2 separate regions of the Homo sapiens genome follow, and region 2 is reported to be linked to region 1. The links are microRNA targets in miRTarBase. Many come from high-throughput screens and were not tested one by one. Region 1 holds a microRNA gene; the other region holds the end of a gene's coding sequence.

The links. Region 1 holds the annotated microRNA hsa-miR-6753-3p (UGGUCUGUCUCUGCCCUGGCAC, at 1,475-1,496, shown strand). A microRNA usually pairs through its seed, bases 2 to 8, with sites in the 3' UTR of a target mRNA and lowers its output. Matches are read on the target gene's strand: a 7mer-m8 pairs with bases 2 to 8, a 7mer-A1 pairs with bases 2 to 7 and ends in A, and an 8mer does both.
Region 2: miRTarBase lists ATG9A as a target of hsa-miR-6753-3p. Seed matches in the 3' UTR shown: 7mer-m8 at 4,305-4,311.

The regions. Positions count from the first base shown.
Region 1 is chr11:68,043,458-68,048,457 of GRCh38, forward strand. MIR6753 (microRNA 6753) reads left to right here and starts at 1,337; the gene lies at 1,337-1,500. It overlaps TCIRG1 (T cell immune regulator 1, ATPase H+ transporting V0 subunit a3), which reads left to right. Exons shown (of 20, transcript NM_006019.4): 6 at 1-40; 7 at 114-196; 8 at 357-450; 9 at 675-887; 10 at 1,501-1,645; 11 at 3,976-4,115; 12 at 4,190-4,347; 13 at 4,425-4,515.
Region 2 is chr2:219,215,351-219,220,817 of GRCh38, forward strand. ATG9A (autophagy related 9A) reads right to left here. Exons shown (of 16, transcript NM_001077198.3): 15 at 5,397-5,467; 16 at 4,030-5,102. The coding sequence ends at 5,097. ABCB6 (ATP binding cassette subfamily B member 6 (LAN blood group)) reads right to left here and starts at 3,608. Exons shown (of 19, transcript NM_005689.4): 1 at 2,775-3,608; 2 at 2,320-2,457; 3 at 1,302-1,482; 4 at 1,014-1,115; 5 at 647-830. The coding sequence starts at 3,323. RefSeq lists an enhancer at 2,825-3,692 and a silencer at 2,938-3,047.

The DNA.
Region 1 (5,000 bases):
CTTCAGGGAGCTGGAGCAGCCGCTGGAGCACCCCGTGACGGTGAGCAGCTGGCGCTGGGCTGGGGGGTCCTGGGCAGAGCGGGACCCCAGAGTCAGCTGAGCCTGCTCTGCAGGGCGAGCCAGCCACGTGGATGACCTTCCTCATCTCCTACTGGGGTGAGCAGATCGGACAGAAGATCCGCAAGATCACGGACTGGTGAGTCACTGGGAACACCCGCCCCACCGCCCTGCTCCCCAGGCCCCTGCTGTCACCTCCCAGCCCGCCCTATCGTGACTCCTCCCCATGAGCTCCCTTCAGACTCAGAGTCTCGTAGCTGTGTCCTTCTGGCCCCTCACGCAGCGCATCCTCCCTCCAGCTTCCACTGCCACGTCTTCCCGTTTCTGCAGCAGGAGGAGGCCCGCCTCGGGGCCCTGCAGCAGCTGCAACAGCAGAGCCAGGAGCTGCAGGAGGTGGGTGCCCCCGGCCTTCCGGAGGCGGGTGTAGGAGGTGGGTGCCCCCGGCCTCCCGGAGGTGGGTGCAGGAGGTGGGTGCCCTGGCCTGGCCTCCAGGAGGTGGGTGCAGGAGGTGGGTGCCCTGGCCTGGCCTCCAGGAGGTGGGTGCAGGAGGTGGGTGCCCCCGGCCCAGCCACCCCACCTGCCTGCCCAGCCCCCGCTGACTGCCCACTCTGGCGCAGGTCCTCGGGGAGACAGAGCGGTTCCTGAGCCAGGTGCTAGGCCGGGTGCTGCAGCTGCTGCCGCCAGGGCAGGTGCAGGTCCACAAGATGAAGGCCGTGTACCTGGCCCTGAACCAGTGCAGCGTGAGCACCACGCACAAGTGCCTCATTGCCGAGGCCTGGTGCTCTGTGCGAGACCTGCCCGCCCTGCAGGAGGCCCTGCGGGACAGCTCGGTGAGCAGCCTGAGGCCTCGCCCCCTCTCCGCCCGCCCCTCCTACCAGGCCGGGGCGTTTCTGCCTCACTTCCAGCCTCTGGCTCCCTGCACCTGGGCTTTGCCTAGGGGCTCCTTCTCCTCCCAGCCTCCTCCATGGCCCACCGCTTCCAGGGAGTCTGCCCTGATGGCCCTGGCCCAGCAAGCCCTACCCTGACTTTCCTAAGTCCCTGGAGGCTGCACAGGATAGTTTTAAAGTCAGAAGCCTCATTCCAATCCAGGCCCCCCTGTGACCTTAGGCCTGCTCATGGTCTGTGGAACCGGTGTGATGCCCCTGCCTCCGGGGGTCACCCGCCGCGCACAGCAGGTGCTTGCGGGTGAGGCTGGGCTCCTTCTCCTGGGCCGTCCCTAGGAGGCAGCATGCTTGCCTTTCCCAAGCAATTGCCAATCCATGTGGTGTCTTTGGGCCCCCACCAGGGCAGAGCAGGGCTGATCATCTCACGTCAGAGAGAGGGGAAGGGGCTGCCCAGTGAGCCCCCACAGGGCTCTACATCTCCAGCTGGGCCTGGCTGGAGATCCCAGGGTCCCTGAAGGCCCCCGCCACCGTTCTGGTCTGTCTCTGCCCTGGCACCCAGATGGAGGAGGGAGTGAGTGCCGTGGCTCACCGCATCCCCTGCCGGGACATGCCCCCCACACTCATCCGCACCAACCGCTTCACGGCCAGCTTCCAGGGCATCGTGGATGCCTACGGCGTGGGCCGCTACCAGGAGGTCAACCCCGGTGAGAGCCACGGCATCCTTACCCGTGTCCTGGGAGGCTCAGCTGCCCCACTGGGTGGGTGTGAGCCTGAGGGGGAGGTATCTCCATCCTGGGCCTGGCCTGCCCTCCTGGGATGAGGGGCACACATCCCATCACTCTCAAGGGGCTGTTGGGCTCTGCAGCCAGTGTGAGGCTTTATGTCGGCCCCCAGCCAACTCCCCCTTGTTGAGTTTACAAGGGAGCCGGCACGGGCTTGTGCAAAGAACAGAGGCTGTGCGGTGGGCATGGCCCAGGTTGGAAGCCCATCTCGCCTACTTTGAGACATTTCTTAGCTTCTCTGAGCCTCAGCTGCCTCACCTGCAAAATGGAAATAATAGCGCAAACCTCAGAGGAATGTTGGGAAGCTTAGTGACTGTTGGAGACTGCAAGCTGGAGCCAGGGGCAGCCTTTGGTGTGGTTGCTTTGGTTGCACAGCTTTTTTTTTTTTTTTGAGATAGAGTCTTGCTCAGTTGCCCAGGCTGGAGTGCAATGGCATGATCTCGGCTCACTGAAACCTCCGCCTCCCAGGTTCAAGCGATTCTCCTGCCTCAGCCTCCCAAGTAGCTGGGATTACAGGCACGCACCACCACGCCTGGCTAATTTCATATTTTTAGTAGAGATGGGGTTTCACCATGTTGGTCAGGCTGGTCTTGAACCCCCGACCTCACGTGATCCACCCACACAGGCCGTTGGGGGCCCAAGCACCCTGACTCTTGCCCACTGGATGAGGCAGGGCCCCTCCCTGTCCTGTGACCAAGTCCCCTCCCGACATGGGCTCCACCACATCACACCCATGCTATGGGCCGGGCCCCCACTCAGTGTCACTGGGGGCACTGGGGGGTTTGCTGCTTCTGCAGGGCCAGTGTCCTGGGGCTGGATCTGGGCCCCAACAGGATTCCCCTGCACGTGGGCAGAGGCTGGTGCAGCTAGAGCATCACCTGGAGGCCCGTGGCAGATAGAATGCTGCCAGCTCAAAGCACCAGCCGTCGGGGCAGCGTGTTTGCCAGGGAAGCTGTAACAAAGTGCCACCGGCTACTGGCTTAAGGGGCAGACACGGTCCCACAGTCCTGGAGGCTGGAAGTCCAAGACCAAGGTGTCAGCAGGGGCCGGGGGCACTGGCTGATGCCTGTGATCTCAGCACTTTGGGAGGCTGTGGTGGGAGGAGGATCTCTGGAGTCCAGGAGTTCGAGACCAGCCTGGGCAACATAGCAAGCCCTTGTATCTTAAAAAAATAAAAGATGATGAGGTGTTGTCAGCAGGAGTGGCTCCTTCTGAGGCTGTCCAGGAAGATCTGTTCCCGGCCTCTCTCCTGGGCTTGGAGCGGCCGTCCTCATCTTCACACACTGTTCTCCTTCTATGTGGGTCCAAATGTTCCTTTTCATAAGGACATCGGGCACACTGGATTGGGGCCCACTGTAATGGCCTTATCTTAACCCAGTGACCTCTGTAAGGACCCTGTCTCCAAAGAAGGTCACATCTGGAGTTCCTGGGGGTTGCGACTCCAGTGTATCTTTTTTGGGGTCACAACACAGCCCCTGACAGTGTGTATGTTGGGGTCCTCCTGCCTCCCATGAGGACTTGTTCCCATTTTACTGATGGGAAGTCGAGACTTCAGAGCTGAAGTGACCAGCTCGGCCTCCCGGAACTTGCCATGTGCCAGCTGGGGCTGCCTGTGGCTCCCTGTCCTCTCTGGCTTCTGTGTGGAGCTCTGGGAACAGCAACAGCTGAAGCTGCTAACTTCCTGTGGCTCCAGCAGCTGGCCCGTGCTGCCCGTGGAGAACTTATGAAGTGGTCTGGTGTTACCTGCATTTTACAGATGGGGAAATGGAGGCTCAGAGAGGTGAAGTGGCTGGGCCAAGGTCACACAGCTCCTAAGTGGTGGGTTCTTTTTTTTTTTTTTTTTTTCGGAGACAGAATCTTCGCTCTGTCGCGCAGGCTGGAGTGCAGTGGCGCGAGCTCGGCTCACTGCAACCTCCGCCTCCCGGGTTCAAATGATTCTCCTGCCTCAGCCTCCTGAGTAGCTGGGATTACAGGCACCTGCCACCATGCCCAGCTAATTTTTCTGTTTTTAGTACAGGCAGGGTTTCACCGTGTGGGCCAGGCTGGTCTCGAACTCCTGACCTCGGGTGATGCCCCCCCCCCCCCCCGTCTCGGCCTCCCAGAGTGCTGGGATTACAGGCATGAGCCACTGTGCCTGGCTGCTAAGTGATGGGTTCTTGACTGCAGGCCAGCAGGGCCTCCGTGGCGTCTTGGGCCGGGAGGCAGATGCTGGTGTGTTCGGGGGTTCCCAGCTCACCCACCTCTGCCCACAGCTCCCTACACCATCATCACCTTCCCCTTCCTGTTTGCTGTGATGTTCGGGGATGTGGGCCACGGGCTGCTCATGTTCCTGTTCGCCCTGGCCATGGTCCTTGCGGAGAACCGACCGGCTGTGAAGGCCGCGCAGAACGAGGTGAGGGGCGGGGCTGGGGTCCTGATGAGGGTAGCAGGGCCAGGCAGCCCCTCACCACACCACTGCCCCCCCAGATCTGGCAGACTTTCTTCAGGGGCCGCTACCTGCTCCTGCTTATGGGCCTGTTCTCCATCTACACCGGCTTCATCTACAACGAGTGCTTCAGTCGCGCCACCAGCATCTTCCCCTCGGGCTGGAGTGTGGCCGCCATGGCCAACCAGTCTGGCTGGAGGTGAGGCCCGGGCCCCAGCCCGGCTGGGGGCCCCGCAGCACCCGCAGCCCTGACCGCCCTCCCCTGCGTTGCCGCAGTGATGCATTCCTGGCCCAGCACACGATGCTTACCCTGGATCCCAACGTCACCGGTGTCTTCCTGGGACCCTACCCCTTTGGCATCGATCCTGTGAGTCCTGGGATGGAGTGTCCGTGGGTGGTGAAGGCAGCTGGGAGTGGGGGCTGGGGCTCCCCTCGGTTCAGCCGTCCTGCAGCGCTGTCGCTGAGCACTCCTGTGTGCCAGGCCCTTTCCTCAGCACAAGAGGCAGACAAGCCTCCTGCCCTGCGGAGCCTGCATCACAGTCCCCTGAGTGTGCGGAGGCAAAGCGAGACCAGCCAGGAACCAGTCTCCTGAGTGTGCAGAGGCAAAGCGAGACTGGACAGGAACCAGCCTGCAGCTTGCACTGTGCCAAGCACTGTTCCCAACCCTCTGTGGAAGTGATTTTCTTTTTTCTTTTTTTTATTTTTGGATATAGAGTCTCATTCTGTTGCCCAGGCTGGAGTGCAGTGGTGTGATCTTGGCTCACTGCAACCTCCATCTCCCGGGTTCAAGCGATTCCCCTGCTTCAGCCTCCTGAGTAGCTGGGATTACAGGCGCCCGCCACCATGCCTGGC
Region 2 (5,467 bases), not on the chromosome of region 1:
TGGCTATGTCACAATACCATTTGTTTTAGGAAAAACCTCCACAATGCCATATTAGTTCTGTGAGTCTGCATATATAATATGTATGTAAAAATGCAAAAAAGCAGAACCCAGCTGGGCACAATGGCTCACAACTGTAATCCCAGCACTTTGGAATGCTAGGTGGGCAGATCACATGATGCTAGGAGTTCCAGGCCAGCCTGGCCAACATGGTGAAACCCTGTTTCTACAAAAAATCTAATAATTAGCCAGGCATGCTGGTGCACATCTGTAATCCCAGCTACTCAGGAGGCTGAGGCAGGAGAATTGCTTGAACCCGGGAGGCAGAGGTTGCAGTGAGCAGAGATTATGCCACTGTACTCCAGCCTGGGTGACAGAGCGTGACCCTGTCTCAAAAAAAGAGCAGAACCCAACATACTAAACAGAGTGGGAAGCTCTGAAAAAGTAAGTGCAGCTCGAAAGAGATTTGCCCTCTGCCCGCATTACCTAAGTTATTAGGAGAGCATGTATACAATAATCCTATACTTTAAAAAACACCAAGGTGGGAGCGGCAGCTTCTCAGGCGGGGTCTGTTCTCTTCCTCCCACGGGCCCCTATCCCTGCTTCTCCGGCTCCACCCTCCCACATGCCCTTTCCACTGGGGCGGCACCTGAGCAGCCCTGTGACACTGGATGTGCCCCGATCCGCGATCCGCAGCACCTCCCCTGTGCGGCGCCCCAGGTGCCAGCGCAGTGAGAGCTCGTGCAGGTGGGAGAAGATGAGCAGCTCCACCCGCCGAGACGTGAACTGCTGCACCCGGATCCACAGGAAGGTGCGCAGGTTGCTCACGAAGCCTGCAGGGAGCCGGGGGACGCCTCAGTAGGGCCTGGGAGCTGAGGGACGTCAGCCCAGCACCAGGATGTGAAAGGTCTGAGAGTACATGGGGGCTGGGGAGGAATGCTGGGAGAGGCGGATGCTGAGGGAATGCCTGTGGGAGGGACCTATACCTAGCAGGGTGAGGGCGGAGTCTCTCATACCTGTACTGCCAGTGCCACCCCCCTGGAGGAACTTGAGGAAGACGTAACTGGTAACAGTCCAGGCCAGAGAGTTCCAAGGTGCCTTCTCAGTCAGCAAGTTCACTGTGGAGGAAACGAGTCAGAACCCACTTATGGCGCCCAGGACTCTCTTCAGGCAAAATGGCCCCAGGTACCAGCCACAGTCTCTTTCTGACCACCCAGCTCTGTCCCACCTCCCTAGGTAAGGACCATCCCAGCCACCAGGCTGATGAAGGACCAGCACACTGAGCTGGTGCTCCTCCTGCTCACCAATGTTCCTATAGAATATAGGCACCAACACATTGAGTGCCCGTTCCAAACCCATGAGCCCCAGGCAGATGAGCACCACCAGCTGCAGAGCTGGACTCCCTCGAGGCCACAGGTAGCCACTCAGGAGGCGGAGCTTCCTGCCAAAATCTCGCCAGGTAGACTGTTGGGCTGCTGACCGAACCTAGGATGGTGAAACACGTAGGAAGGGAGCTCAGAAATCAAGTAAGTGCACTAGCCAGAAACCCTTCAGGGAAAAACCTATGGGGTTACAGCTCCCAGGTATCTCAGACCCACAAGTGATCCTTGATGGGGTCAGAAAAACTAAGTTGCAAACTGAGATTTGGAAAAGAAGCATTTCATTTTGGGGGAAGGAATGATGACAGGGAATGAAATGAAGAGACTCCAGGATTCAGAAACTGAGGTGGGGTCTGGTGCAGTGGCTCATGCCTGTAATCCCAGCACTTTGGGAGTCCGAGGCAGGTGGGTCACCTGAGGTCAGGAGTTCAAGACTAGCCTGGCCAACATGGTGAAACCCCATCTCCACTAAAAATACAAAAATTAGCCGGGTACACACCTGTAATCCCAGCTACTTGGGAGGCTGAGGCACGAGAATTGTTTGAACCCAGGAGGCAGAGGGTGCAGTGAGCTGAGATCGCGCCACTACACTCCAGCCTGGGTGACGGAGCAAGATTCCGTCTTAAAAACAAAAAGAGGCCAGGCGCAGTGGCTCACGCCTGTAATCCTAGCACTTTGGGAGGCTGAGGCAGGCGGATCACGAGGTCAAGAGATCGAGACCATCCTGGCCAATGCTGTGAAACCCTGTCTCTACTAAAAATACAAAACTTAGCTGGGTGTGGTGTCATGCACCTGTAGTCCCAGCTACTCAGGAGGCTGAGGCAGGAGAATCGCTTGAACCCGGGAGGTGGAGGTTGCAGTGAGCTGAGATCACGCCACTGCACTCCAGCCTGGTGACAGAGCAAGACTCCGTCTCCAAAAAAAAAAAGAAACTGAGGTGTACCTGGCTCCTTTCCACATCTTGGTCCTCTTCATGAACCTGCAATGTATAGGACTGGGGACGAAGTCCAGGGGCCCAGAGACCCAGGACAAACAGCCCTCCAGAGACCACATACCGCAGCACCCACAGGCTAAACTGAACCTAGAATGAAATATAAGTGGAGAGAGTATCATTGAGGATAAAATTTCATTGTATTACTACTTATAATAGGGCCGGGGACTGGTGTCATGAACACATTCAGCACTTACAGGCTTAAAAAAAAAAAAAAAAGCAAAACCACAGTGACTCAGCAAAGACACACCCCACCAGCTGGCTATCAGCTCCCGGCAGGACTCAGCCCCTCCCTTCTCCCTTTGCTTAGAGGCATCCTAAAGCCTGGAAGCAGTGTGACTGGACATGCAGTGCTTTCTCCCAAGCCCGGCCAGCAGAGGCTTCCCCCTTCCCACAGAGTCCCTCACCTGCTGGCCCAAGTCTGCCCTTGCCCACCACCACTGTGGGCTGTTCCAAGACACCAGGGCCAAGTTCTCAGCTGCAAACGCCACAGTCCAGAGGAGCAGGAGACCAGGGCTGTGCCTGAACTTGATCCAGATGCCCATTGCCAGACGCTGCCGTGCCTGGCTCCGCTCCACGACAAGCAGCCACAGGCCACAGGCGCCGGCCAGACTCTCCAGCACGGAGGCCAGAAGTAGATAGCTTGGCAGTGGGGCCCCCCGGGCAGTGCCCACCCGGCCAGCCAGGCCGGCCAGGGGCAGCGCCGCCTGAAGTGTGGCCAGAAGCAGCTGCAGCACGTAGGGAGAGATGCGAGGGCCGGCCCCCCAAGACAGCGAATCAGCACCAGCGGGCCGCTCCCGGCGTCTGCAGGGAAGAGCCAGCACCAAGGCCAGAGTCCCCAGAGCCATCCGCGTCGAGGGCACGAGCGTGAAGAAGAAGCAGGGACTCAGGCCATCCTGCATCCAGGCCGGACCCACGGGCCCTTCGGCCTCGCAGTAGTTGCCCACAGTCACCATGGCAATGCGTGGACGCCGGCCGAGGCTGCGGGCACTGCGGGACCGGAGGCCGGGACTGGTCACTCGGAGAGGGGCGCGGACATCCGGGTGCCTTGGCTCACGTAGCCGCTGGGCGCCAAGCTGCGGGGGTCCCGGGAAGGGACGCACGTGGACCAGGCCTCACCGCCCACTCCCCTAGCGCACGCGCCGCCGCCACGCACTCACGCAGGGCACGTACGCCGTCTCAGCACGGCCCCGCTGGCTCTGGGCCCGGGACCCTCCTGCCAACTGCAGGCCCACGGGAATGCTCGGTGTTGGACTCGCACCGCGCTCCACGGCTGTAGCCCCGCCCACAGCCCCTACCCACGGCTCCCATTGGCCAAATGTCTCCGAGGGGGGAGCGGGGGGAATGGTGCAGGCAACGAATGCAAATTAGAGAAGCAGAGCCGGCTTGGTCACGTGCCCAGGGCGGGAAATCTGACGACCAGGCCGAGCTGGAAACCTCCACGGAATCGTGGCTCGGGGCTGGAAACAGACCTCACGGAATCCTGGCTCGGGGCAGGACACAGACCTCCACGGAACTGTGGGTCGGAAGCTGCCCTTCCGCCAGCCGCCTTGCTCAGCGTATCTGAGCGACGGCCTAAACATACTTTCTTCTAGACCCCGGCAGAGTCCCCATCCCATTTCTCTTGTTCCCAGGATTCTAGCCGCGCGAGACAACAAGAAGTCTGGTCAAACTCCCTTTTTATTAAGGGTTATCAAGCTGTACACGGTCCCTACCCTGCTCCGCTCCGAGTTCGGGCAGCGCAATTCACCACTCTCCCAAAGCCGGACCACAGCTGGGTGAGGGGTGGGACAGAGAGTAGGAGCAGTCCCAGCATGCAGTGCAGCAGCCCAAAGCCTCGGGCGAGGCATCGCCCTTCATCCCCCTTCAGGGCACAGCGAGATGCGGGCCAGAGCTCTTTTGCTGGGACGCACACAGCCAAGGTCACCCTCCAGCCCGGTCTGTCCCATGTGCAGGTGATGGGGGGTACGATAAGCAGCAATGAGGGCCCAGGAAGACCTCAGTCTCCTGGGGGCCCATCCTAAAAGATGGCAAGGGCAGCAAAGTATTTCCATCCTGCTCCTACAATTTAGAAACCTTCTTTTTTAGTGTCAAAATATAGCGTTGAGGGGAGCTGGACGCTAGGGTCTTCACCCTAACGCAAAGCAAAAGCCGAACGGAACGGGAGCAAGCGAACAGAACAGGAGCAAGCAGCACACACAGGCCAGTGATGTGCAAGAAGCGGAGAGAGGTGAGCCGGCTGCAGCACTGGGCGAGAACTGCGGGTGAGGTAAGGGCCACAGCCTGACCTGCTCATCTATTGAGGGGGCTAGGGAAGGTTGCAGGGGTTGAGGGTCCAGGCCCAACCTCCCCACTCCACAGTTGGCACAGGTTCTCCCTGCTTGGCAGCTTCTATCGTGGGCAGCCCTCTGGGGACTTGCAGGGGTAGGTGTAAAGGTGGCAGTACTGGGGCTGGGCTGGGGGCCAGTTTCTAGCACCACACTCTGAGCCAAGGGGGTCCTGGGGATGAGGCTAGAGTCCCGTGTGCCCTCGGTTCCTAGGCCCCAAATTCCTCTCCTGGGGCTGTGGCAAGCCCAGTGTTGGCACCTCCCTTGGCCAGGCACAGACACACAAACACCACACACGTGGGGCCAGGGAACACTCAGAGGAGCCGTCCCATGGCAGGCAGACGGGATGGCAGGGCAGCGGTGGCCTCCATCCTGGGCCACAGGAACCCTGCTCAGCCTTGTCTATACCTGTGGGGAGAAAGGGTTGGTAATGGAGATAGTCTTCAGCTTCTGGTTGATACCTGCTAGCCCCATAGAAACCTAGAGGTAAAGGGACAGGAAAGGTTGATTCCTGGGGAGGTAAGGTAAGGAAAAACCAAGCCCTGCAGAGCAGTTGAGAAAAGAAGGGGTAGTGTGTTTTGGAAGGGAGGGTACAGTATCTCTGTGTGGGGGTGGGGCATATCTTCCTTCCCCTGAAAAGCTGTTACCTCACCCTGGAAGTTACTATTTCTGGCAGTTTTTCCTAGGCCCCGGGGCCCTTACCTTGTGCACCTGAGGGGGTAGCTCATCCTCCGAGCCCTCTTCGGGCACGGGCTCAGGGTGCCTTGATGCCG